Linked DNA regions of Homo sapiens. The protein of the gene in region 3 interacts with the protein of the main gene of each other region in a pairwise test. Each region holds a gene or a part of one and is shown on either strand. Other genes may lie near its edges.

What was found.
Region 1: the proteins of SH3GLB1 (region 3) and DNAJC1 interact in binary tests that used the Homo sapiens proteins (3 or more experiments, as listed by UniProt).
Region 2: the proteins of SH3GLB1 (region 3) and POLA2 interact in binary tests that used the Homo sapiens proteins (3 or more experiments, as listed by UniProt).
Region 4: the proteins of SH3GLB1 (region 3) and SNX4 interact in binary tests that used the Homo sapiens proteins (3 or more experiments, as listed by UniProt).
Region 5: the proteins of SH3GLB1 (region 3) and ALKBH3 interact in binary tests that used the Homo sapiens proteins (3 or more experiments, as listed by UniProt).
Region 6: the proteins of SH3GLB1 (region 3) and PITPNA interact in binary tests that used the Homo sapiens proteins (3 or more experiments, as listed by UniProt).
Region 7: the proteins of SH3GLB1 (region 3) and SMIM5 interact in binary tests that used the Homo sapiens proteins (3 or more experiments, as listed by UniProt).

Annotation. Positions count from the first base shown.
Region 1 is NC_000010.11:21,916,731-21,920,230, reverse strand, and holds part of DNAJC1 (dnaJ homolog subfamily C member 1 precursor), read left to right. Parts: intron 1-301; coding exon 302-399; intron 400-1,358; coding exon 1,359-1,452; intron 1,453-3,500. UniProt on the Homo sapiens protein: May modulate protein synthesis.
Region 2 is NC_000011.10:65,260,831-65,264,761, forward strand, and holds the start of POLA2 (DNA polymerase alpha subunit B), read left to right. Parts: upstream 1-1,131; 5' UTR 1,132-1,462; coding exon 1,463-1,541; intron 1,542-3,931. UniProt on the Homo sapiens protein: Accessory subunit of the DNA polymerase alpha complex (also known as the alpha DNA polymerase-primase complex) which plays an essential role in the initiation of DNA synthesis.
Region 3 is NC_000001.11:86,718,076-86,721,575, forward strand, and holds part of SH3GLB1 (endophilin-B1), read left to right. Parts: intron 1-1,431; coding exon 1,432-1,560; intron 1,561-3,500. UniProt on the Homo sapiens protein: May be required for normal outer mitochondrial membrane dynamics. Required for coatomer-mediated retrograde transport in certain cells. May recruit other proteins to membranes with high curvature. May promote membrane fusion.
Region 4 is NC_000003.12:125,447,203-125,450,702, reverse strand, and holds part of SNX4 (sorting nexin-4), read left to right. Parts: intron 1-2,876; coding exon 2,877-2,924; 3' UTR 2,925-3,500. UniProt on the Homo sapiens protein: Involved in the regulation of endocytosis and in several stages of intracellular trafficking. Plays a role in recycling endocytosed transferrin receptor and prevent its degradation.
Region 5 is NC_000011.10:43,911,831-43,915,330, forward strand, and holds part of ALKBH3 (alpha-ketoglutarate-dependent dioxygenase alkB homolog 3), read left to right. Parts: intron 1-432; exon of another isoform or gene 433-654; intron 655-3,500. UniProt on the Homo sapiens protein: Dioxygenase that mediates demethylation of DNA and RNA containing 1-methyladenosine (m1A). Repairs alkylated DNA containing 1-methyladenosine (m1A) and 3-methylcytosine (m3C) by oxidative demethylation. Has a strong preference for single-stranded DNA.
Region 6 is NC_000017.11:1,559,993-1,564,151, reverse strand, and holds the start of PITPNA (phosphatidylinositol transfer protein alpha isoform), read left to right. Parts: upstream 1-1,359; 5' UTR 1,360-1,591; coding exon 1,592-1,611; intron 1,612-2,254; exon of another isoform or gene 2,255-2,953; intron 2,954-4,159. UniProt on the Homo sapiens protein: Catalyzes the transfer of phosphatidylinositol (PI) and phosphatidylcholine (PC) between membranes. Shows a preference for PI and PC containing shorter saturated or monosaturated acyl chains at the sn-1 and sn-2 positions.
Region 7 is NC_000017.11:75,631,997-75,636,233, forward strand, and holds the start of SMIM5 (small integral membrane protein 5), read left to right. Parts: upstream 1-1,437; 5' UTR 1,438-1,462; coding exon of another isoform or gene 1,463-1,942; 5' UTR 1,943-2,037; coding exon of another isoform or gene 2,038-2,206; exon of another isoform or gene 2,207-4,237.

The DNA.
Region 1 (3,500 bases), on a different chromosome or scaffold from region 3:
TGACATTATTAAAGTTGGATGAATGAGAAAAAGTGAGTTGAATGCTTTCTCTTCTTAGAAAACTTTGATTGCTATGGAGATGCACATGACTGACAGTCCTGAACTTCATGTGTGTTTAAGGCCTGGATACCATGGCAACAGTTATTGTGAAAGATTGATGATTTTACTTAATCATGTTGGACCCTACATACATTTGCATAAATGTTCCTCTATAATGTTTACCCTTCACAGAAGAGCCTAGATAACATTTGAAGTGTACATGTTAATGATAACCTGTAACCATAATTCTTTCCACATTAAGGATGAACTACTAAGTAGAAAAAAGAGAGAAAAGAAAAAAAAGACTGGCAGCAAGAGTGTGGATGTATCAAAACTCGGTGCTTCAGAAAAAAATGAAAGGTGAGAGCATATAAAAATACTTTATAATTTGAAGCTGTTTTAAAATACATCTTTAATATGATTCAACTTCATATGTATGTCTATTTACATGTGCTCTCATTTATATCTGTGGTAGTCTTATAAAAGACTAATAATGTGCCATTGTTTATGAGACAAGTTCTAATCTTAAGCAAAATGTCTTCAGGTTTTTTCCCCCATATAAAGTGTGACTATATATTTAAATAATCCCTCAAATTCTTCTAGTTTGAAATTTTTATACTGAACTTTAGAAACAAAGTACTATTAGACGGACCTATCACTTAGCTCAGGAGTGACAGTATGTAGAGAGGCAGTGATATGCAGTACACTCAAAAAGATACCACCATTTCTTCTATTGATTCATAGAAAGGAATAAAGGGTTTAAATAGTTCACACAGCAGGGCATGAACTGGGATCAATGTGGGATGGAGATCAGAGACTATTCTGCCTGTCATCTATTCTGATGACATCAGTGAGTAATGCTTCAGTGAACTGCAAATGACATTAATTTTTATGTATTGGTTTGTTTATGCTACAGTCTTCATATCTGGTTGTCAGCACTTGGGAACACTCTGATGATGGTTAGTTTTTTATAGCTGAAGTAATCATAAGGCTTAAGAATTCGTTGTACAAAAGTGATGAAAAGCCCAGGTTAGAAAGAAGGCTTTTGTTTATCTTTGTAACTTGATTAGGAGCCTCCTTCCCCAAAATCTTAGCCTAGATTCTCTTACATGCTATATATATTGCATTTGTTGTGACTACTGTATTTCATGATGGAGTAAGTCAGTTATAAATATTTCAGTGCATACTTTCTTCATTTTTTTTGTTGAAGTAGCCATTCACAAAAGAATTCATGATCTTTATAGAATTATTTTGCCTCCCAACTTTCTCTGTATATTCCTCATATGTTGTATGGTGTTCTTTTTTCTCCCTCCCTTTAGATTGCTGATGAAACCACAGTGGCATGATTTGCTTCCATGCAAACTGGGGATTTGGTTTTGCCTTACACTAAAAGCATTACCTCACCTCATCCAGGTAAAATGTACCTCTTTTATATAACATTAGATCTTTTATTTTTAATCACTCATGAAATAATTTATGCCCATGTCGGCTCTCTGAATGCTGATATGCAGTGGATGCTTTATAATGTTGATTGAGTAGGATTTTTATAAGTTAAACCTAATTTAGATAATTCTAAGATAATTTAGATATGTTTCTGTAATTATCTTTTATAATGGTTTTAGATCACCTTAGAGTCCCAAGATGCTAGAAAAAGAAAAAAACATACTATCTTTAGTACAGAGATAAAAGCAATAAAAATTTAATCCACTGTTATCATTAAAAGCATAACCAGTAAAAAGGAACAGTATTCAAGTAGCTTGCCACCCATTATTTTAATAGCATTTAAGTACATAGTGTTAAAAAAAAAAAAAAAAAACTTTACATGAACATCTGTATAATTGTACCAAAATATATATTGCTTTCCATTTTATTTGCAAATTTAAGAGGAGTGAGGACATTTTGTCTTATACAGGTAATGAGTTTCTGTTTCTATTTAGTCTTGATTAAATAATAAAATGTGGATATGTATCATATTTAGATGTCAGTTTCTTTTATTTTTTTACATTTAGTATACCAAAGCATATTTTATTAAATTATTGCTTTGTTAATTTTGATTTTTGCATCAGGTTTGAAAATCCCCAACACATAAATATTTGAAAGTAAATAAAACACTTTTTGGTGTACAGATTTTGAGGTTGAGATTGTAATTTTTTGGAGAGAAATGTTTTATTTTAGAAAATAAGTGTTTATAATCTAGAGGACCAGATAATATTCTAATTCAGTTCTACCCACTTTGTAGTTATATATTAGAGCTATTTTTCCTGATTTTTTAAGGAAGCTAATGACTACAACTTCTGCATTTTCCTTTATTTTTCTCATAATGAAAATTTTATATTTAAAGGGGATATTGAACCAAAATACTAGTGTGCTTCTTTTTATCCTTTGAGAAATTACCAGTTCTTCCATCAAAATAGTTCATCTTAATAGTTATTGCTTATAGAATCTTATATTTTGTTTACAGTTAATAGAGAAAAATTACAGTATTTTGGTAATTTAAAAGGTTTGTTTTTAAGTTGTTTAGTGTGTTATATTGTTTGCTTGAAAAAATACTCTGCAATGTTTGTATGCTGTCTGTAAGACTTAATGAGGGAGGGAAAGTCTTTATCACACTGGTATGTTTATGAGAAAATGAGGCAGAAAATATTTTTAGGGCAGATTTTCTTATTTTTTGAAGTCTGATTATTTTTTGCCAACTTTAGAATCCGTGCAATAGGCAAACCAGAATATAGATGAGTTAAAAAGTATATTCATGAGGCAGTATAAATAGAATATTACATAAGATATCAATATTAAACACTTCTTTGTAATTTTAATCTAATTTGAAATAAAATTTATTTGGTAAAATTAACATATTTCTTGTTTAGCATGCAGGGTAATTTGCCAGACTAGAACCAACATATTGTTATGGCTTAGATTTATAATTTACTTTAAAATACTTGCCTGTGATAGCTGTTAATTCATGTAATAGATTGATTGTTTTGCCTCATCATAAATTTGTAGAAAATATACAAAAATGAGGAATTTTACAGAAACTTTTTAGTTTCTTTAGAAACTCTGCTTTTTTTAACTGATCACTTTGAATTTTAAAGTTTTTACTTACTTGATGGTATCTGCTGGCCTTTCGGTTTTGAGATGCTAGGCATTAGGGTTCCAAGACCTTTTAAATCTAATTTTTAAATTTTATTCTAATTATTTCTTCTTGATAAATGGATTTCAAGAAGAAAATTAAGATGATTTTCCTTTTTAAAGGAAATATTTGATATTTTTATTCTGCTGTGGGGACCTTAGATTAGTGTTTCTAGTGGTCACTAACAAAATAATGTAATGCAGTAGACTCTTTCAAATATATATTATAATACTTTAGAAAGTACTTTAGATTGATTGCTTATGAAATACATTAGCAAAACAATACTGTTCAGTTGCTCTCAGGATTAGATTTTTGTCGCTTTTTGTTTTGTAGT
Region 2 (3,931 bases), on a different chromosome or scaffold from region 3:
TTGTTCAATTGATCACGACCCTCTCAGGCGCACCCCCTTAGAGTTGTGAGCCCTTAAAAGGGACAGGAATTGCTCATTCGGGGAGCTCGGCTGGTGAGACAGGAGTCTTGCCGATGACCCCAGCCGAATAAACCCCTTCCTTCTTTAACTCGGGTGTCTGAGGAGTTTTGTCTGTGGCTCGTCCTGCTACAAAGTGATCCGCCTGCCTCGGCCTCCCAAATGCTGGGATTACAGGCGTGAGTGACCGCACCTGGCCTGGGATGGACATTTTAAAGGTTCCTGATACATATTGCTAAATTGTTTTCTCGAAACGCTCTATACCATCCCACCAGCATTGTATGACGCCTACGGTTGAGATTTTTGGCTCAAAGAATTACGGTGTATTTCAAGGGGAGAACCCTCTTCTCATCTTACCCCTAAACTCTATCCTTGAGTGACCTACCTTCACTCCCAAGCCTCCAGTCACCCACTGGGAATCTCTACCTGGAAATCCCAGAGGCACTCAAACTTAACGTGTCCAAAACTAAATTATCCGTCACCTTCCCACCTCATATCCCCCCAAATGCCCCAGATTCAGAAAACATACCCATCACTGTGGCTGGCACCACGGTGATAAGCACGATAATAACCATGGCAACCAGATTCCCTACTGAAGCCATTCTTTTAGGATGAACCAAGGGCACAACAGGCAGAGATGACAAGGGGAATGGAGAAGGGGGTACAGTAAGTTTTAGATAGTCGAAGGCACGCGCACGACAACGCCTGCGCACCACGGAACAGGGCAAAAGGGTGACAAACATGCGCCACTGAGTTTTATCGAGCAGCCGATGCCCAGAAAACAGGCATCCGCACACAGACTCAGTTTCCTTGTAGGCAACTCCCGGGCGTTGCGAGTCACAACCGGCATTCTCGCGCCGTGAGAGAGAACTGCGCAGCTGCTGACTGGCGGGCCGCCAGGCGCGTGCGTAGAGACGCCCACACGCCCGCTGATGCGCACGCGCCCTGGGCCGCGCGTGCGCGCGTGGGGTTCCGGAATGAGCCGGGGAAAGCAAGGGGAAGGTTTGGGGTTGGCTCCCGGTTTCGCGCATGCGTGCACTGCACAAACCATTTGGCGGGTTTTTCCGGCCACTCAGTTCTGCCACCGTCACTGAGAAGCTCAGCGGTAGCTTTTGGGAAGCAGGACGTTCTCACCAGGAGAGCGTCCTCTCGAGATTTCTGCTCCCTCCATTCAGGGCGTTTGGGAGCCACCCCTTCATTTTTTAAAAAAAGTATTTCTCTGTGACCGACGGCCGGGGCCTTCTGACGGTCTGAGGTCTTGCTTGGGCCAGTCACCTCCTGTCACGGTCCGCGGAGGGGGGAAGGATAAGAGGGCGAGGAGCTCATCGCTCGCCACCCCCGTGGGCTTCTTGGGCGCAGGTCGGAGCTGGGTGGGCCGGCTCCCCGGCCCCTGGCTTGGGCGACCATGTCCGCATCCGCCCAGCAGCTGGCGGAGGAGCTGCAGATCTTCGGCCTAGACTGCGAGGAGGCTCTAATTGAGAAATGTGAGTCCCGCACCCCTCCCGCCCTGCAGCCGTGCTCCACGCTCTCGCCCGAGTTCCTCGGCGCCTAGAACCGAAAGTGGAGCGCTTCCAATTTCCACTTCCCCTGGAGCAGAGTTCTCGGTGGCTGTGAGATGAAGAATCAAACTTGAGTTTTGAGATTTAGGATGTGGGGACTTTGAAATGCCCACCGGGTACCGCTTGGATGCCAAATCAAAAATAGGAATATGCAGCACGATTTTAAACCAACTCGAAGTTCCCGAAAGGCGGAATTGGGATGTGCTAGATAGAGACTAGGCACTGGTGGCACCTGAGTTTGGAAATTGTTGAAGCCCCGGTAACAAAGCAACAGATGTGGGGGTTTTGAAATGTAGCTTTTTATTCTTGGCTCCTCCCTTTCCAGCCTACACCTTAAACCTCTGCTGATCCATCAGTTATTTTATCATAGCTGTTGGTGGTCTGTGCAAATATGAATCCCTTGAGGTAGGTTCCTAAAATTGAATTTGAGCTGTGGAAGGAGCTTTAGGGAGCTTTACAGATGGAGAAACAGACAAGGAAAGCTAATTGCCTGAGCTGTCTGTGAAGCCAGGTGTCCTGCCTTGGAGTCCCGTGCTGCATCATACGGGTCCATCGTGTTGGTCAAGCTGTAGAGCAGTGTAAGGAGTCATTTGAAGCAAAGCCTGGGAGATGTGGAAGTTCTAGAATCGGTATGAATGTGCACCTGCCTTAACCACTCAACACTTTGAACTTCTTATATACAAAAAGATAACGAAACGTTAATTTATGGTGAGAAATTCCTTTCAGAAACCAGAATACTTCAAGTCTTCATGCCCAGTGCCTTCTCTCTCTCTCTTTTTTTTTTTTTTTTTTTTTGACAGTCTTGTTTTATCACCCAGGCTGGAGTGCAGTGGTGCAATCTCGGCTCACTTCAGCCTCCGCCTCCCAGGTTCAAGCGATTCTCCTGCCTCAGCCTCCCAAGTAGCTGGGATTACAGGCGCCCGCCACCAGGCCCGACTAATTTTTTTTTGTACTTTTAGTAGAGAAGGGGTTTCACCATGTAGGCCAGACTGCTCTCGAACTCCTGACCTCAAGTGATCCACCCACCTTGGCCTTCCAAAGTGCTGGGATTACAGGCATAAGCCAGCAGGCTCGGTCCTTCTCTTTTTAAAAGAAGACTAGCCAGGTGTGGTGGCTCACGCCTGTAATCCCAGCATTTTGGGAGGCCAAGGCAGGTGGATAATCTGAAGTCGAGAATTTGAGACCAGCCTGACCAACATGGAGAAACCCTGTCTCTACTAAAAATACAAAATTAGTCGGGCGTGGTGGCGCATGCCTGTAATCCCAGCTACTCAGGAGGCTGAGGCGGAAGAATCGCTTGAACATGAGAGGCAGAGGTTGTGGTGAGCCGAGATCACACCATTGCACTCTAGCCTGGGCAACAGGAGCGAGACTCTGTCTCAAAAAAAAAAAAAAGACTTAAGTGGAAAACCTGATCATAGTCAGAAATGTATGTGGTAAGCATGAAATCAGCATGAGAGAAATTAGTTATGTGAACCAGATTTGTAAAGGCTTCAGGCCAAGATGCCAGTTGCTTTCATCTCATGGCAATGGCTTTGGAATTGTGGACTTTGGATCATCAGTAACTTCAGTGGCACCTTAATGTTTCCTGACAGTCAACCGTATTTCCCTGTTTTTTTTGTTGTTGTTTGTTTTGTTTTTTGAGATGGAGTTTCTCATTGCCCAGGCTGGAGTGCAATGGTGCAATCTTGGCTCACTGCAACCTCTGCCTCCCGAGTTCAAGCGGTTCTCCTGCCTCAGCCTCCCGAGTAGCTGGGATTACAGGCTCCCGCCACCACGCCCGGCTAATTTTTTGTATTTTTAGTAGAGATGGGGTTTCGCCATGTTGGGCAGGCTGATCTCGAACCCCTGACCTCCAGTGATCCTCCCACCTCGGCCTCCCAAAGTGCTGGGATTATAGGTGTGAGCCACCACACCTGTTCTACTTTTTGTATTTTCAGTAGAGACAAGGTTTCACCATGTTGGCCAGGCTGGTCTTCAACTCCTGACCTCAGGTGATCCGCCCACCCTGGCCTCCCAAAGTGCTGGGATTACACTGCGCCAGGCCCCTGGTCTCTTTACTCTGAGTCTTCCAGATGATTGTTTTCCACCTTCTCCTGTAACATCCTTCTGTCCCACCCTCACTCTCAGCTGACAAATTTCTATTATTTGCTGAAAAATGTAGAAGCATTAGAAAACTTCGATCAGCTACCACCATTATGTCTCACTGACCCATATCTGTGGCATATACCTAGCCTTCTTTCCTATTATAATGAATAAGCTTTCCGTATTCCTAGCAAAATCCAAGTCCTCCACTTGAGTCCTAAACCCCATTC
Region 3 (3,500 bases):
TTCACCTGGGCTGGAGTGCAGTGGCACAATCTCTGCTTACTGCAAGATCTGCCTCCTGGGTTCAAGTGATTGTCCTGCCTCAGCTTCCCGAGTAGTTGGGATTACAGGCATGCGCTACCACACCTAGCTAATTTTTGTATTTTTTTTTTTAGTAGAGACGGGGTTTCACCATGTCAGCCAGGCTGGTCTCAAACTCCTGACATCAAGTGGTCTACCTGCCTTGGCCTCCCAAAGTGCTGGGATTACAGGCATGTACCACCACACCGGGCCAAAATGAAGTTCTGAAATTTAACTAGTATCTTCTAAATGGTTATGTTTTAAAAAGCTCTTTTTGGTTTTAACTATTTAAAGGTATTTAATTTCTGCTTTAAAACTTCTGATTTTGTACTAGAATCTACCACAAAAGCAAGTATCATTGCTATACTCTATTTTATGTATTATAACTAAGCCTTTTACCAACTCCTGAAATGTTTCTGTTACTGGTTCAGCTCATTTTTTAAATTTTCAGTGCACTGTGTGAAACTTCCGCATGCGTAGGAATCTATGTGAGGTACTTAGAGGGAACCTATTTGACTTAGCTTCAATTTATGCTTAATCGTTGTTTCTGGAAACTTAAGCCATTTTTTCACTTGTCCTGAAATACCTCTAGGTTGGACAGCATTGTAAATGTTAATATCTTTGGTCTTAAGCATTTTGCTAACCAAGTGTTTATTCAGCTTTTGTTTTTTTCCCCTTTCCATTTATTCTAATGTTCTATTATTGCTTTAACCTTTCGTATTTTAAACTTATTTTTAATGATGAAATCTTTTGAGTGAATGCATGCTCAGAGATATACTTGTATACTTTAAACATAAACTAAAGCCAAGGCATCATATTGCTGATCTGTCTGTAGACTATTCCAAGCCTGGATTGTTCTATGCCTTAAGCGCCTGTGTCTATATTTAGACTCTAGGCAAGAAAAAGAGAGAGCAAATGCTCATGCTAAAGCTGTCAGATGTAAGTCTTTGGTTCTTCCAGGTACTTTATATCTGTATTTTCCTAGCCAGAAATCCTGATTTTGAAATTATGAATGTACATTCAGAGTAAAAATTAGAGTTAAAATGCTACAAACAGGGCAAAGACACCTTCAATAAATATTAAGTGAATTAATCAGTCCTTTTCTGGAACTTAAAATCTTGTAGAATACTCAAATAATAATTTTATTTTATTTTAAAATGCTTTTGTGCCAAGATATTTTATCAAATTTCTAAAATATAATTTTTTAGTTATATAATAGTCTAACATAAAATTTAAAAAATTATTTATTAAGATATGTGCTTGAATGAATGCTAACTTTAGGAGATGATAAATGGCTGCTGATGGGGGAAAAAAACAATCTTCTAATTAGTTTTGCTTTTTAGAAATCATTGGTAATTTTAACCTTTCTCCTAGATGCCAGGATAGAAGAATTTGTTTATGAGAAACTGGATAGAAAAGCTCCAAGTCGTATAAACAACCCAGAACTTTTGGGACAATATATGATTGATGCAGGGACTGAGTTTGGCCCAGGAACAGCTTATGGTAAGTGAAATGCAAAAAGTTCTAATAAGGGATATCTTTATGTTTAGATTTATTAGAGATGTCATTAACATATTAGTAGGCCGGGTGCAGTGGCTCACACCTGTAATCCCAGCACTTTGGGTGGTTGAGGTGGGCGGATCATGAGGTCAGGAGATCGAGACTATCCTGGCTAACATGGTGAAACCCCGTCTCTACTAAAAATAACAAAAAATTAGCTGGGTGTGGTGGCAGACACCTGTAGTCCCAGCTACTTGGGAGGCTGAGGCAGGAGAATGGCGTGAACCTTGGACGTGGAGCTTGCAGTGAGCCAAGATCACACCACTGCACTCCAGCCTGGGCCACAGAACGAGACTCTGTCTCAAAAAAAAAAAAAAAAAAAAAACATAGTAGTAGAATTGGTTTTAACTTCAAATTTATGTTAAAAATTTTTGATGAAGTGAGAAATATAGGCAAATATATACAGTTAAATGTAATATTTAATATATTCAAGCATATATTTAGTTATTCAGAGAATTCACATCTTTTTTAGTTCTAAAAAGTTTAATGAATTCTTCACTTGTTCTCCCAGTGATCTTACAATACCTATGTTATAATACTTGTGATATTGCAATTATTGTTTGCATATGTCTCTTCATTTTTAAAAAAGCTTTCTTAGGGCTTATTTTATGTTAAAGGTACTTGGCACGTAGTTCTTGAACAAATCAGTGCTTTTGTTATAATTTTGCAGTAATGTCAGTAACCAAAAAATATTAACAATTGTTATCTCTGGATATTTGGATTACATTTCATTTCTGTTTTTCTCTTATGTATTTCAAATTTTCTATAGCCGTGGTTTAGTTACACTCGCTTTATTAGTTGCTGTACAGACTTTAAATGTATAGCCCTGAAGCTCAAAGTTACATACACATCTTTATTGTCACTCTAATTTTCTCATAACATGAGACTGTTACAGATTTCAGTAGCTTCTTTTCCTGTTGTTTATGTCTAATAATAATTCTCTTTATACATCTGCAAGATACTGGTCTTTGGATATGAAATGGTAGGTAGATTAAATTAATTTCTACACATAGTTCTGATTTACAGAATGGTTTATAAATTCTAGGATTAAATGAATTTTAAGCTTTAGTAGTTATCTTTATGTCAGAAAGAAATAACCTAAATATTGTTGAATGCCACTAATCCATTGACAGGCTTTTTTAGGTACACAACTTTGAAACTTCTACATTGTGTTCTTCAAAATCTAATTTTTAAGTTTGAAAATGCTTAGAACTTCAAAATAAAATTATTTCTGAATTTTACTGTTAATTTTTAGAAAAATGTTATACATTAAACAGATGTTTTATTGCCTACTTGTGCCAAGCTCAGTTAGATGCTGGGATCATAAAGGTATGTGAAAGGAACCCAGCAGCCCCTTCCTTCACCAGGCTGAAGAAGGTTTTAGCAGAGCATGAACATTAGTAAAGGCTTCTAGATTTTCTTCCCTTTTAAATCTGCTTAATCTGTTTGCACCTCTAGTAATTCTAGTGAATGTACCCTGGTTATTAGAATTGGGCTTTGTGAACCTATTACCTTATTAGTAATTAATACTAAAAATTGAGTATCACAGGCATGGGCTAAGCATTATATAGTATATATATTTACATATTAATTCTCATTTATATCCTGCTTTTAAGATAAATTATATTACCTTCATTTTAAAGACAAGGAAACAGGTTTGGAGAAGTTAAATAATTAATCCACAGTCACAGCTAGTATAGTAATTCAAATGAAGATCTGTCTGTATCCAGTGACGGAGCTCTTAACTACTATCTGTATTACCTTCCTTATCAGTCAGATCAAAGCTTATCCTAACATGAAGGGATTAAGATCCTTAGAGCTAAAGCTTATTAGAAGTAAAACTAGGAGTGGAACCCTGATCTTGGGGCTTCCTTTCTTTCTAC
Region 4 (3,500 bases), on a different chromosome or scaffold from region 3:
TATTCTAGTTAAAATAAATGTTTGACAATGATGGAAGACTTTCTAAAACGTTGGTTTAAGAACAAAATAGGAAACATTCCTTAACCTCTTTTTTATAACCTAAGATCTGCCAGTGTGACTACCAGTACCAGTGCTTTGATTTGTATCACCTGTCATAATTTATCAAGCACTTTTACATGCATTATCTCAGTAAATTACATGGTAAGATGAATTCTCACATTTATAGGGCAAAATCACACTCATATAAATATATATACAATTCTTATGCTTTAGTTTGTCCCAAAATTTTATTTTTTGGCTGTGGGCCATCACTGAGAGAACAAAGATATTTTGAGGCATAAACACCATACGCACTCACTGGTTAAGTGGGCTCCATTTGGTTTGGACAAATTCATATTTATGCTCAGTGAATTATAAGTTACTGTATACCGTGGATCTTTGGAGTCACTTAAAACAAGTTTAGATCGTGACTGTTGAGTCTGCAGGTGCTAAAGGTTGAGTATGTTGTAGTTTGGTAGCATCTCTATCTTTTTTTTGCCTTCATTCTGTCACCTCTTCTTGCCTGCAGCTAGGTGCTAGATATTTACAATCCATTGTCTTTTTCTTTTTTCTTCTTTTTTTGTTGAAATGGGGTCTTACTGTGTCACCCAGGCTGATCTTAAACTCCTGGGCTCAAGCAGTCCTCCCGCCCTGGCCTCCCAAATTGCTGGGATTATAGGCATGAGCCACCACACCCAGTAGTACAGTCCTTTTTCCAATCTAACTTTTTAACCTCAAGAAATCTGAAAGACCAGATAACAAAGGTTTTTAGTTTTTTTGTTTTTCCTGTAAAAGACTCATTAATAAGCTCCTTGTGATCTCTCATTCACTTCTTTCCAAAGTAAAGTGCAAGACCTTTATATAATGTCTCAAAGGACTTTCCCCCTCCGTTTTGTTTAGGCTGCAGTGGTTGAGGGTGCTAGAAATTTAATCTGTGAATATAAAAGATACTACTATAGCTGTATTTGGACATACTGTTGGATATTTTGTAGGTTTATTCACAAATCCTTAGATAACTAGTAAAACAAAAAGTTTAATAAGAGTTTATGTTCACCTTGTTTCCCAAGAATGGTACTATGCAATTTTGTCGTTTTGTTTTCTTGCCTAAGTGATATAGATTTTTATATGTGATCCTAGCTATTTGGGAGGTTGAGGCAGGAGGATCACTTGATCCCAGGAGTTCAAGACTAGGCTGGGCAACATAGTGAGACCTTCTTTCTTTCTTTCTTTCTTTTTTTTTTTTTTGAGACAGAGTCTCACCCTGTCACCCAGGCTGGAGTGCAATGGCATGATCTCAGCTCACTACAACCTCCGCCTCCCGTGTTCAAGCAATTCTACCTCATCCAGCCGAGTAGATGGGATTACAGGTGTGTGTCACCATGCCTGACTAATTTTTTTGTATCTTTAGGAGAGACGGTTTCACCATGTTGGCCAGGCTGGTCTCAAACTCCTGATCTCATGATCCGCCTGCCTCCACCTCCCAAAGTGCTGGGATTACGGGTGTGAGCCACCGCACCTGGCCCGAGACCTTCTTTCAAAAAGAAAAGAGAAGAAAAAGAAAATTGTTCAAAACCTTAATAAATGACACACTTTAATGATTAAGTATTAAAAAGTTCCTTTCTCATAAATGAGTAATTATTGGAGAATATGTATCTTATTGAAAAAATACCTTACTGAAAAAAACCCTTGCCGGGTACAGTGGCTCACTCCTGTAATCCCAGCATTTTGGGAGGCCAAGGCAGGTGGATCACGAGGTCAGGAGATCGACACCATCCTGCCTAACACACGGTGAAATCTCATCTCTACTAAAAATACAAAAAATTAGCTGGGCATGGTGGCAGGCGCCTGTAGTCCCAGCTACTTGGGAGGCTGAGGTGGTAGAATGGTGTGAACCCGGGAGGTGGAGCTTGCAGTGAGCCGAGATCGCGCCACTGCACTCCAGCCTGGGCGACAGAGCAAGACTCTGTCTCAAAAAAAAAAAAAAAAAAAAAAAAGGAAAAAACCCTTAAGTTTTACTGTTACATCTCTATAAACATGTATTTTTGCTTATGCATATTAGGCCATCTATAACTGTGCTAAGTAACTTCAGGTACTAAGAGGGATTCAGTAATTTAGTACATAATTAGTTTTTATCAAAACTTTAGTTATTAGAGTGATAATTTAATAACTCAATTTATATTTGTTAGACTAATGAAGTTTTTTGTTTCAAATATTACATTGAAAAAACCGAGCCGGGCACTGTGGCTCACACCTGTGATGCCAGCACTTTGGGAGGCAGAGGCAAGCAGGTCGCTTGAGCCCAGGAATTCCAGACCAGCCTGGGTAACATAGTGAGATTCCATTTCTACAAAAAAAAAAAAAAATACAAAAAATAAGCCAGGTGTGGTGGCGTGCACTTGTGATCCCAGCTACTTGGCAGGCTGAGGTGGGAGGATCCCTTGAGCCCTGGAGGTCAAGGCTGCAATGAGCCATGATTATACTCCAGCCTGGGTAACAGAGTGAGACCCTATCTCCAAAAAAAAAAAAAGACTGAAAACTTGTTTGATTTACAAATAGAAATTACTCGAGTATGTGATATGAAATGAATTAACTCAGTTTTCCAACAAGTTGTAGGAGTTCTTTTTCCATTTTGAAGATAAGTTCGTATTAGAGATTCTGTTTCTCTTTTCAGAAGCATTAGACATTTGCTTATATTAGCCACTTCCCAAAATAGTGTCATATTTTCTCGACTTCTTAATTATTCCAAAAAGCAAAACTTAGTGTACCACTAAGCCAAGTACTTGGGTTTTCAGATTCCTTCCAAACTCACATTTTAAAGTTTTTATTTTTATTTTTAGGGAATTCAAGTTTGGACCAATGCTAAGGAATGCTTTAGCAAGATGTAATCCTGTGAATTGAATTTCTCTTCAATCAAAGTGCCCCAAAACAGAAGCACAAGTAAATAAAAGAAATTTAAGTCACTACCTAGTATACATAAACATATACAATAAGTTAAATAAATTCAGCTTTCTTTAACTTAATTGTGGTCGTGTTAATGTAGCACAAAAAATATATTTTAATGAAGATTAAATATTATAATTTGAGGTTTTGGGGACTGGTGCTGATTCCAAAAAGTTAATTTAATAATATATACCAACAGATTGTTTGTCACGCTTCTGAACCAATGACTGAATGTCAAGATGTTCGTTAATTTCTAGATGTTTGTTTCAAGACCAGCTGTTTCAGATCTATTAATGTAGGGAATTTTTCCCTAAGATTGAATTCCTATATTTACTTGGTAAGATCCACTAATCTGTTATAGGGAGTTGTTTTCTCTTGCCTTATAGTTGAGCTATTTGGTTTGACAAAGCTCAGCAGAAACTTGATGTGAAAAATCTACGATTTTCTTCTACATTCATTGATGCCCCTTGTAATGTTTGCATACACTAGAAAATGCCTTCAATTTGTGTTTTACCAGAATT
Region 5 (3,500 bases), on a different chromosome or scaffold from region 3:
AAAAGGGAGCGGCCAGGCGCCGTGGCTCATGCCTGTAATCCCAGCACTTTGGGAGGCTGAGGTGGGCGGATCACAAGGTCGGGAGTTCGAGACCAGCCTGACCAACATGGTGAAACCCCGTCTCTACTAAAAATACAAAAAAAATAGGCAGGCGTGGTGGTGCGCGCCTGTAATGCCAGCTACTTAGGAGGCTGAGGCAGAAGAATCGCTTGAACCTGGGAGGCAGAGGTTGCAGTGAGTCGAGATCGCACCACTGCACTCCAGCCTGGGCCACAGAGTGAGACTCCTTCTCAAAACAAACAAACAAACAAAAAACAAGAAGGGAGCATAGAGCCTCAAAGGTTGAGCTCACTGCTTTCATCACTTTGTTTTCCACCTGAAAAATCTTAATTTGCTTCTGTTGGAACAAAGGATAAAATAGAAACTCCTTACCCAGATTGCCAAATCCATACATGATCTTAGCCCAGGGAGATCCATGGACTCTCACTGTTCCCGTATGGTTGCTCCATTCTACTAAGTTATCTCTTTGCTTTCCCCGAGGCTTGCTCTCCAACTTCTTAACTTAAAAGGGCCCCCTATAGCGTGAAGGCTTTCCTGATGCCTCCAGTGCAGAAATTAATAATAGTTACTGTGTGCCAGGTGCTTCCTGTGAACCTGTAAAACAAGAAACAGGTAGCAGGCTTCTACCTTGTCCTTTCTGCTCATTTGTGTTTTGTTTTTATAAGTGTCTTCTTAGTACAGAGATGGAGGTTTTTCTATTTTGCTCATCTAAGGAATCAGAGATGATGTGGAAAACCAACTGCCTCACTGTTATCTGAGATCAGTAATTTGGAAGCATATTTTGCTTTGAATGACTTTTTCTGATTGAGTTAGGGGTGAGATGAAGAATGTGATAATTTTTTAAAATCATGGCATTTATTTTTTAAAATCTTAATATATTAAACAATACAGTTTCAGATACAAAAAAAATTACTGCAATAAAACAGTTGAGGTGTATTTCCATTGTGCTTCCCTTCCTTATCAGGAAAGTACATTGTCCACTGAGAGACAGGATGGATGGCCTCTCCCAGCTCTACACAAAGCACAAGCCTACTGGCTCTCCTGGGCCTTGGTTAATACATGGAACAGGCTATGTTTTCTAAAATGTTGTAGCAACACTCATAAGTCAACCATGGTTCAAAAAGTCAACCATGGTTCAAATCACATATTTACATATTGATCAATTCTTTATGATAGACAGACATAAATGAGATACAGTAAATAATTTCCAGTTGTTAAAAAAAAAAAAAAAACAAGTACAGGCGACAAACTTGGTCATGGTACACAAATATACTTCATGTGTACAGACAGCTTCATTCAGGTCTAATTTTTTTTTAATTTTTGTTTTAGGTTAGGTATATTTGCAGGTTTGTTATATAGGTAACTTGTCTGTCACGGGGGTTTGGTATACAGATTATTTCATCACCCGGCTAATAAGCATAGTACCCGATAGGTAGTTTTTCCGTCCTCACCCCCGTCCCGTCCTCCACCCTCCATTATTCAGGTATAATTTTAATTTGAAAGACCTAGATATACTATTATTTAAGTGATAATGGCCTCTAAGATTTATTCAGATTACTATCAAATAATAAATTAAACAAATCCACTATAATTTAAAACTCTGTCCATTGCTTGAAACCTTGGAGGAGCCTATGCTACAATCAGTTGCTAACTAAAAGCAATTGTACGTGTATTTGATATTTCCCCACAGTTTCTACCTCTAGATTTAATTCAGTAAAGGAAGATGATATTTGAAGATGAAGTAGCACTTGTGTCCTGAGCATCTCTCAGGCACTACTGCATGGAATGGCAAAGGGGATGCAAGAAGCACATCAGATGACAACGGTCTTAGACGCTTACAAGTCTGCTAAGGTGACTGACAAGGGAATCAAAGAAGGCAGTCATGTCATGGACCTATCAGCAGCATAGCTGGGCAACCCTGGAGCTGAATCTGGCCCTCAGACTTGTTTAAATTGCCCAGTGTTTTTAAAGACACTGAATTAATTGCGAAAATTTATAACTCAGGAAATTTCACATAAAAATCCCACTTGTCAGCTTCCCTGGAAAACCCAGAAGAGGGGGCAGCACTGGGGGAACAGTGATCTGAAATGGCTCATTGGCAGAGCAGCCACCACCTTTCTGCAGGCCCCTGGTTCTGCATGGGTCCCTCTCCTCCCTGTGCTGCACCCAGCCCACACCTCTCACTTATGCTACTTGCTGGTGTTTGTGACCCCTACAGTATAGTCAGGGTGCCATATAATCAGGACAGGAAATATTAGGATTTCAGAAGGAATAGAGCTTACCTTGGAGAGCAGAGTATAGTGGAAAGAATAGGGCTTTAGAGCCGGGCCAATCTACATTCAAATGCTAGCCTGCCCTCCTGCTAGCTTTTGCCTTAGAGAAATATTTTCCCTCCAGCTCCCTTTGCTTATGATAAAATGGATAATATCACCTTCCTTGCCTCCCTTACAAGGTTGTAGTGAGGATTAGCAATAACGGATATAGAGTGCCTGATGTGCCTGGCACCTGAGCACATGCCATCGTAGATCTTGTGGAAGAAGTCTGGCAGGATGCTTTGGTTTAAGTACCTGGAAACTGTTATAAAAAGAAGCATGGAAAAAAAAGAATAACCCAACCACCACCAAAAAACAAACTCCATGTAGATTAAAGAGTTAAATCTAAAAAATGTAAACTCTTAAAAAAAAAACTAAAAGGAAATACAGTTGTATATTTAACTTTCCTCAGGATGGGAAAAGACTTTCTAAGCATAAAAATCATGAAGACGAGCCAAAGAAAGGTCAGTAGAGTTGACTCTAAAATTTTTGAGCTATTCCATGTTAAATACCATAAGTACAGTTAAAAGGCAAATAGCAAATGAGAAAAGCATTTGCAAAAAGTATGACAAACAAATGCCTTAATATCTGTGGTTGTAGATCAATAAGAAAACAGTGTTAACACCCCCATAGAACAATGGACAAAGGACATGAACAGAGAGTGTTCACAGCAGAAGAAACACAAACAGCAAACAGAATGAAAAAAAAAAAGTTGAACTTGGGCTGGGTGTGGTGGCTCACACCTGTAATCCCAGCACTTTGGGAGGCCAAGGCAGGTGGATCACTTGAGCCCAGGAGTTCAAGACCAGCCTGGCCAACATGGTGAAACCCTATCTCTACTAAAAATAAAAAAAAATTAGCCAGGCATGGTGGCAGGCACCTGTAATCCCAGCTACTCGGGAGGCTGAGGCACAAGAATCGCTTGAACCCAGGAGGTGGAGGTTGCAGTGAGCCGAGATCACACCACTGCACTCCAGCCTGGGTGACAGAGTGAGACTCTGTCTCAAAAAAAGAAAAAAAAAAAAAAAAGAACTTGGCTTGTAATCCAAGATCTCTAAGTTTGAATGAGTTGTCATTTCTCCCCTAATTGTTTTTCGTTACTGTCAGTTGATAATGTTCAGCCAGAAG
Region 6 (4,159 bases), on a different chromosome or scaffold from region 3:
CTCCTCGCCGGTCTCCCTGCCTACGCTCTGGCATTCCATCCCCTCTGTCCACCCAACCACTAGAGTGAGCCTTCGCCCAGGACACCCGCTCATGTCACTGCTCAGAGCCCTTACATGCCCTCCCACCGCCCTTAGGGTGGACTCCAAATACCTTATCATCGTTCACCAGGAACCCTCCCCTATTGAGCTGCTCAGCCCTGAAATGTTCTGTTCCACTCACTTGTCAGTTCTCCAAATGCACCATGCTCTCCCTCTTGCCTCCAGCCTTTGCATTCACTCTGCCTGCTATGCTCTTCTCCGAAGCCCTCTGCAGATCTGAGAATCTCTTCCTCCAGGAAGCCTTCCCTGACTACATCCCTGACGCTCAATTAGGTGCCCCTCCGTGTAATGCCGCTAAGCCTGTGTCTCATTTCTCACAGCCCTTTTCATTCTTTTTTTTTTTTTTTTTTTTGATGCAGAGTCTCGCTCTGTCGCCCCAGCTGGAGTGCAATGGTGCGATCTCGGCTCACTGCAACCTCCGCCTCCAGGGTTCAAGCGATTCTCCTGCCTCATCCTCCCGAGCAGCTGGGACTACCACCACCACGTCCACCACCACGCCCGGCTAATTTTTGTACTTTTAGTAGAGATGGGGTTTCGCCATCTGGTCTGGAACTCCTGACCTCAGGTGATGCGCCCGCCTGAGTGCTGCATTACAGGCATGATGTGCCTGGGATTACTGCCAGGAGCCACCGCGCCCGGCCTCACAGCCCTTTTCTTTTCTTTTTTTTTTTTTTGAGACGAAGTTTCACTCTTGTCCCCCAGGCTGGAGTGCAATGGCGCGATCGCGATCTCGGCTCACTGCAAACTCTGCCTCCCGGTACAAGCGATTCTCCCGCCTCAGCCTCCCGTGTAGCTGGGATTACAGGTGCGTGCCTCCACGCCCAGCTAATTTTTGTATTTTTAGTAGAGACGGGGTTTCATCATGTTGGCCAGGCTGGTCTCGAACTCCTGACCTCAGGTGATCCGCCCGCCTCGGCCTCCCAAGGTGCAAGGATTACAGGCGTGGGCCACCGCGCGCGGCTATTAATATTTTTTGAAACAACCTTTTCCTGGGTCTCAATTCCCTCAACCGGGGAGGCCCCCCAGCCAGCACCCGCGTGCATCCGTGGCGGTTCACACCGAGGACGGTGACGGACACCCTAGTCTGCTCCGCCTTCTGCCGGGTCTGGCCCCAGCCGCGGGGCCCCACCTCGGAACCGACAGCGCCGCCGCGGCCCACTTAAGGACGGGAGGGCGGGCCTGGGAAGGCTCGGCCCCGCGTGACGTCAGCGCGCACCGCGGCGTGTGACGCTCTGGTTGCCGCAGAGACGCCCCGCCCCCGCGCGGCGCTGCGGAACCGGAGCTCCGGGCGGCGTCGGCAGCGGCGCGAGAGGCGACGAGGCCCGGGCGGCAGGAGCCGGCGCGGCGACCGCGGCGAGGGCGGCGGGGACGGAGCAGAGCACGACGAAGACGCACAGGCAGCCGGGCCGGGCCGGGCCACGGGGAGAGCGGCCGGCGGGCAGCGGGCGGGAGGCCGGGCGGGCCGCGGGCAGCCACCGAGCCGCGAAGCGACATGGTGCTGCTCAAGGAGTAGTGAGTGTCCGGCGGCCGTGCGGAAGCGGGGAGGAGGGAGGGTGGGGACGGCCGCCGGGGCGACGGCGCGGCGAGGGACGCAGGGCCCGGATGGACGGAGGGGCAGCAGGGACGGAGGGTGCCTGAGGCGGGCCCAGCGGGGATGGAGGGGATCCGGGGCGGGCGGCACGTGAGGCGGGGCCCACGGGGCACGGAGGGGCGGCCGGGGCGTGGAGGGGCGGCCGGGGCGTGGAGGGGCAGCCGGGGCGTTCGGCATCTGAGCCGGGGCCCACGGGGCATGGACGGGCAGCCGGGGCATGGAGGGGCCCACGGGCACGGAGGGACAACCCGGGCGGACGGCTCCTCAGGCGCCCCGGGGGCCTCGGAGGCCCAAGTGGACCCGAGGAGAGGCCGGGGACAGCGAGGGCGAGGCCAGGCCCGAGACGGGGTCAGGGCAGGGAGAGCTGGCCCGGGACTGGGGGAGGCCGAGGGGACGCCGAGCGCTGGGAGTGCTGTGGGGTCGCTCTGCGCGGGCCGAGGGCGCGGGCTCAGCCGGGACTGCAGGCGGCGCTGAGAGGCCCCGCGGCGGCCGAGGAAGAGGCGCACCGGGGCAGGCAGGGCCTCCCGGCGGTGGGGAAAGGTGGAGGGCCGAACAGTTCACACGGAGAGCCGGGTGGATGGGTCAGAGGCTCCGCGATGGAGTTGGGATGGGGATGGGGAGGAGTGGCCGCCTTAGGCATCGGGTGAGGGGTGGTGGTAAGTGGACACAGGAGGAGGACTAGGAAGTCAGGGCCTGGCTGGGGAGACAGGTGAAGGGTCTGAGGACATGCAGAGGGGGCTGAGATGCGGGCCGGAGTAACCGTGGTGCCCAAGCAGCTGGTGCGGAAGAGGAGGCTTTTGGAACAAGCTTGGGATGACTGCTTGGGACGTGGGGAGACTTGGGCGAGGAGGCCAGAAAATGTTGGGTAGGGTCCGAAGTGGAGAAGGCCGGGAAGTTACCGGGGTCGAGGCTGGTCCGGAAAGAGAGTATGTTGGGATGAGTATACCTGCCGTTGGAGATGGGGGAGACCAGGGCAGGGCCAGCTTGTTTCTAGGGGATTCTCAGTCTTGGTGCAAAGAGATGGGGAAATTCTTTGAGGAATTGAGGGGTCCATGGAGCCGTGAACTGAGGAGAGATGGTGGAAGGGGTGGGGAGCTCTTGAGTAGTGAAGAGGGGTGCGTGGGAAACTGGTGACTTCTGGAAGGAGTTGCAGGATGACGGGTTTGCTCCTGAAATCCAGGGGACTGGGGGACAGGTGGAGATGTTTGGTGTGCTAAATCTTTCAAGTACAAGATGAGCCATCGTTGAAGCTCAGGGTTCCAAGTAAGCATCACAGGACATTTTTCTCCCCAAAGAGGAGAGATAGGATGGGTGTGTGTGTGTGTGTGCGTGTGCGTGTGTGCACAGAATTTACAGTGAAACTGCTTTCCTGGAGGGAGGGCCAGAAGCCCCAGGAGTGGGAGATGGTCAAACAGAGAGCAACTTGTGAGGCAGCCAGGCAGGTGTGCAGAGAGCTCTTGCCACTTTGTCAGCGATCGCACTTTGACCATCCCCACCAGGCTGGCTCCTTGGAGGTGCTTAGGACATTTAGGACATAGAGTGGAGTTTGGGTAACAGAGGGAGCTGAGACCCACATGTCATCCCAGCTAAACACCTCATCTGAAGAGCATTATTTTGAGGCCTCATCCCCTCTGTTTCTTGACATCCAGTCTGATGTTAATTCAGCCAGGGCTCGGAGCTTTTCCTGGTGAGGAGGAAGAACTTTACGATGCCAACAGGAGAACGTGGTGCACTTTAGATTTTAATCTTCAGTGTCCAGACTGACAGGCTTTTCCCATCCTTCTGATTCTTTTTCCTGTTCCCAAATGAACCCTAGAATCTGTAGAAATCTGTGGTTTTGAAATGAAGGTCAGGCAGGGAAAGGAAGGGACCTTCAGAGGAGATCTGAGTGAGGTTTGAAGAGAGGCACTCCTTCCCTGTCTTTGTTCTCCTCCCCTTGAAGCCTGCAAGGGAAAAGTCCAAGGTGCCGGAGATGCAGGGCCTGCCTGGTATCTGCGTTTCCTTCCTGCCCGACTCGTGCCCCGTGTGTGCATCCCTGGGCGGGGGACGGGGGAGGAGCAGGGGCATCAGGGCATCCGAGACACTGGCTGTGGCCGCAGCGTTGCAGCCCTGGAAAGGGTGCGAGTGAAGGTCACATTAGAGTGAGTGCCGCTCCAGGCCCAGCCCGGCAGTTCCTCTGTGGCCCTGTCCTTTGGAATTGTACCCTATTGCTGCCGAAGTGGTTTTGTTCCTAAGGAGCAAGGGGGCAGTGTCAGAGTGTGCAGCCGTCACGTCAGCAGCCTCAGCGCATCCCGTCAGGAATTGGCCCATGGCATTCTCTTTTGGGGTGAGACTTGGTTCCCACCCAGCGTCTGCAGGTTGCCCCTGTTGATTTTTCCAACACTTCCTCTAACAGGATTCTGTTTAATTTGATTTCTGCAAAATCTTGGATGTGATTTTGACTGCTGTTCTTGAAGATAAAAGGCTTAT
Region 7 (4,237 bases), on a different chromosome or scaffold from region 3:
CATGAAGGGTGTCTTTTGGGTGACACACTTCACCTCCTAAAGCCCATGCATTCCCGTCAGTAAGATGGTGCAGAAAGGCACAGCCCTCACGGACTGAGCGAAGATGGCTGAGGTGATGTCTGAAGTGCATTACAGTACAGTCATGCCCCATGGAATGACTGCACAGCCAATGGTGGTCCCCTACGATTCTAACACTGTATTTCTACTGTACTTTTTCTATGCTTATGTGTGCTTAGATATGTGAATACCACTGTGTTACAACTGCATACGGTACTCAGGACAGTAACGTGATGTACAGGTTTGTGGTCTAGGAGCAACAAGCTGTAGCGCATGGCCTGGGTGTGTAGGAGGCTGTGCCGCTTGATATTTTTTTCCTTCTCTTCCCTGGAATTGCTGTTTGATTTCCCTAAGTATACTCTGTGACCGCACAATGACAAGTTAAATTTCTCAAAACGTATTTGCATTGCTAAGGCAGGCACGGCTGTGTAGTAATATGTCCCATCATCAACCCGTGAGGGTGTCACAGGTGGGGCCTTTAGCCAGGGAGACGCAGCCTCGCCTGGAGTCCTCCTCTCGTCTTCCTCTGTCTCAACCCTGCTGCAGCCCTCCTGGGGTGAGCGGCCTCTGCCCATGCTGGGAGCAGGGAGCAGCCTCTGGCTGGCCCACGAGGCTCTGTCGCATCTCTGTTCCCTCTGCATGGGGGTGGCTGTCGACCCTTGGGGCAGCTGCAGAGGCCGCAAGAGGGGCCATAGCTCTCTCAGGCTCCTTATAAACAGCCATTCCTGCCACCAGGAACGTGGCACAGGGTAGGGAAGCCCAAGAGGAGATGCTGGAACACAGGCAGGGCTGTCTGGGGTGCCACATCCCAGGGACAAGAATAGCTGGCATTAACTGCTCTAACTAGAACTCCTCCCAGTGTGAGCACTGCTGCGGCTGCAAGAAGCCCTTTGAGGGGCTGCGACCCCAAGGCGCAGGCTCAAGGATGCAAGGCTGATTGCAACACCCCGGTAAGGAAGCAGGGCCTGGCTGACTTTCTTTTAGCTGAGTGAATGCAGCTCTGAAGCCTGACCTGGGCTGGGACAGCCGAGGCGGCCACCAGAGGGCGCTCCTGCCCCCACTCTGCTCCAATGAGTAAATGCAACAAATGGTTCATCCCCAGGAGTCCGTGCGCCCGCACAGCGGCCGCCTGTCCAGCCTCTGGGAGGCTCTGGCATCCGAGTGGTGTGACCACATGGCTGGCTTCCTCCCCCTGCCCTCCTCAGGCCCTGACTCACTGGGGTTTTGTGCTCGGACTCAAAGAGCTCCATTGACAGCGGGGCTGGGGTCGGTTTCTCTCCACACAGCCTAGCCTGCTGGGAGGCACAACCAGGCAAATGTCACAGGGCCCGGCCCCTGGACTCTGGAGCCCTGCCCTGACAGCTGGGCCAGGAGTGCGGTCACAGCCCCAGCAGAAGGCCCTCACCTCACAAGGAACATGAGGCGCCTTGCCGGGCGCGCAGGCCACTCCCAGGTCACTCAGGATTCCAAGTTCTCCCCCAAGACGCCTTCAGATGCTGAGCGGCACAAGGGCCTCCCCAGGGACTGGTTGCAAAGCCTCCTGCTCAGCTTGAGAGGGCCACCAGCTCCCCACTGTTTACTGTTGTTCCTGAGAGAGGCCAGAGGGAGGGACCAGCCAGGGAGTGGCCAGAGGGACAGAAGGGGTGGCCTTCCTGAGGGCAGGGTGGGTGCCCCAGACCTGAGAGCGCTGCAGGACTCCCCTCCACAGGCTCAGGTGGAGCCTCCCCAGGGTCCTCCTGGCCAGGAAGGCAGAGAGCCGACTTCTTTCTTCAGCTCCCAACCCAGGCCCAGCCCACGGCGTGGGAGTCGGGGAGAGGGAGAGGAGGAGGAAGGAGGAGGAGAGAGGGAGCTTGTCTTGTCCCTGAGCAGCGCTCTCAGGGCAGAGGTGAGGCACCGGGACATGAAGTTGGAGGACAAGTTCCCAAGCAGGGCTTCCTCGGGCTCCCCCTCGCGACGGTAATTTGACACTTGGATCTCCAGGACGACCAACAACAAAAAAGCCAGGCAGAGACAGCAGCTGGCTGTCAGCAGAGGAGCTGGGCTGAGGCGCCCAGGGGAGCAGCGGCGCCCACGAAGGAAGTACGAGGACAGCACGTGGAGGCTCCGCGCTGGGGCACTGCTGCTCAGCCCCCAACACCTGAGCTCCCAGGTGAGTGGCAATGGCCACAGAAGAAGGGGGGACAGGGAGGGAGCAGCAAGGGTCCCCTGCCCCCAGGGTGAAGGGCCACAGTCTACCATAAACACGGAGAGGTCTTCGGGGACATGCTGGGTCGCTTCCCTGCAGGGAAGTCAGCCAGCCTCCTGCACACACCTGCACTCTCCCTGCTGCTGGGACCCTGCACTAGGGGAGGGCTGGGGGCTCTGCTCAGAGCGCCTCCTGCTCCGCCTGCTGTGCAGCAGAGGGGCCCCGAGGGCCTGCTTATTCTGCAAGTTCATTTCAGCTCTTTTATTCAGGGGGCTTAAAAGAGGGATTTGGCTGTCCAGCTTGGGAGAGAATGGCTGCCGGCCTGCTGAGCCTCCCTTTTTCCCAGGATTAGGGCAGAGCCCTGTCGAGGTCAGCGCAGGGTCTGCCCAGCCAGCATGCGGCGCCCCCAGGATGCAGCAGGACTCTGCCCATCTGTGTCCTTTCAGGGGCTTGGCCCACTCACTGCTGGTGTTCTCAGCTCACGGCTCAGCCTGGGTCCTCCTCCCTGGGCCCATCTAGAACCCCATAAACTCCTAGATCTCCCTCTGGTGATGAGCCTTGAACACCAAACCAGGAACCTGGAGGACTGACTTTCAACTCAGGCTCAGGTGGGCAGAAGGTCACAGAAGTGAGGCTGGGAGGGACCACGCTGGCAACCGGGACCTCTGCTGTGCCACCGTGATGCACAGGCTGACATGACACCACCCCTAAGGAAGCAGGACCCGGCTGTTTGGTTCTTTGGGGAACACTGAGAGCAGCCCTCCTGGGCAGGGCCCGTGAGCCGAGGCTGCCTACTCCTCCTGCCGCCCTGTCCTCAAGCCAGCGTTAAAGCCACCACCCCCCATATGTTTTCCTCAAAGCAAACAAGCTGGCATCTAGTGAGAAACAAAAACAATGACCCAGGGAAATGTGGAAACCAAGGACTAGCCCAAGTGTTCTCAGCTCAGCAGAGGCTGGGGGCTTCGGCTGGGGCTGGTGTCTGGGGAGACAAGCTCCTGCGGTGTTGGGAGGCGCACAGTAGGGAAGAGTCAGGCCAGGTCGGGGTCGGGGCACAGCGGTGAGCCTGGAGACCCCAGTGGCTGTCACTCACAAGACGCCCCAGGCAGGCAGGTGGGGATCCCTGTCCTGCATCCACAGGACACGAGTGGACAGGGTCTCTCCAACACAGTCCCTGAACCAGGACGGAGGGTGAATGAACAGCCAGCTTCTGTAGCTGCAGAAAGAGCGCCTACTGTTTCTAACACCAGCAGCAGAAAGCGCTTCCTCCCGCCCTGGGTGGCTACAGGAGCAGGGCCTGCCAGGGGTTCAAGCACCACTTTCTACTTCCAGTTGGAGCCAGGGCAAAAAGGGGAGTCACCCAAAGGCTCAGTGCCACAAATAGGGGCATCCCCCCCGGCTGCTCAGGCACAGGACCCTGCAAATCTCCCACAAGTGTCAGTTATGCCTCCTTCTAGGTGGACCTCAAACGAGATAATGCCCAACAGGGCAAGGGTGACTAAAACCCACCATGACGAAACAACAGGGCAGAGCAAGCAGCCCTCTGGGGCCCCGCGCTGCCAACACACCTCGCTTATCAGTCTCAAACACGCCGCCTGCTGCCAGCCCTTCCTCGTGAGGCGCCTGGGGTTGGAGTATCAGCTCTGCGAGGAGGAAACAGGGAAGCTTCGGGACCAAGTGGCAGCTGTCTGGCCTGCGGGATGCCTGCCTGTTGCAAGGCTCCGTGTGCCAGGAGATGCCACATAAAGGAATGCTTCCCATCCCTCCGGCTCTGCCAGCCTTCTCTGCCCTGAGTGTTTCCCCTGTGCTGACCGCTACTGCAGCCAGGGCACACCCTCTGAAGGCTCCAAGCAGGGCTGGCTGGGCAGCCTGGGCAGCAGGAGGGCCTGGTGGCAGCTGGGCTACACTCCCTCTTAAGGCCAGAGGGAGCCACCACTTGCTCTGGCAGCCACTCAGGAACCCCTGAGGACCCTGAGAAGCCTCCAACCAAGGCACTAC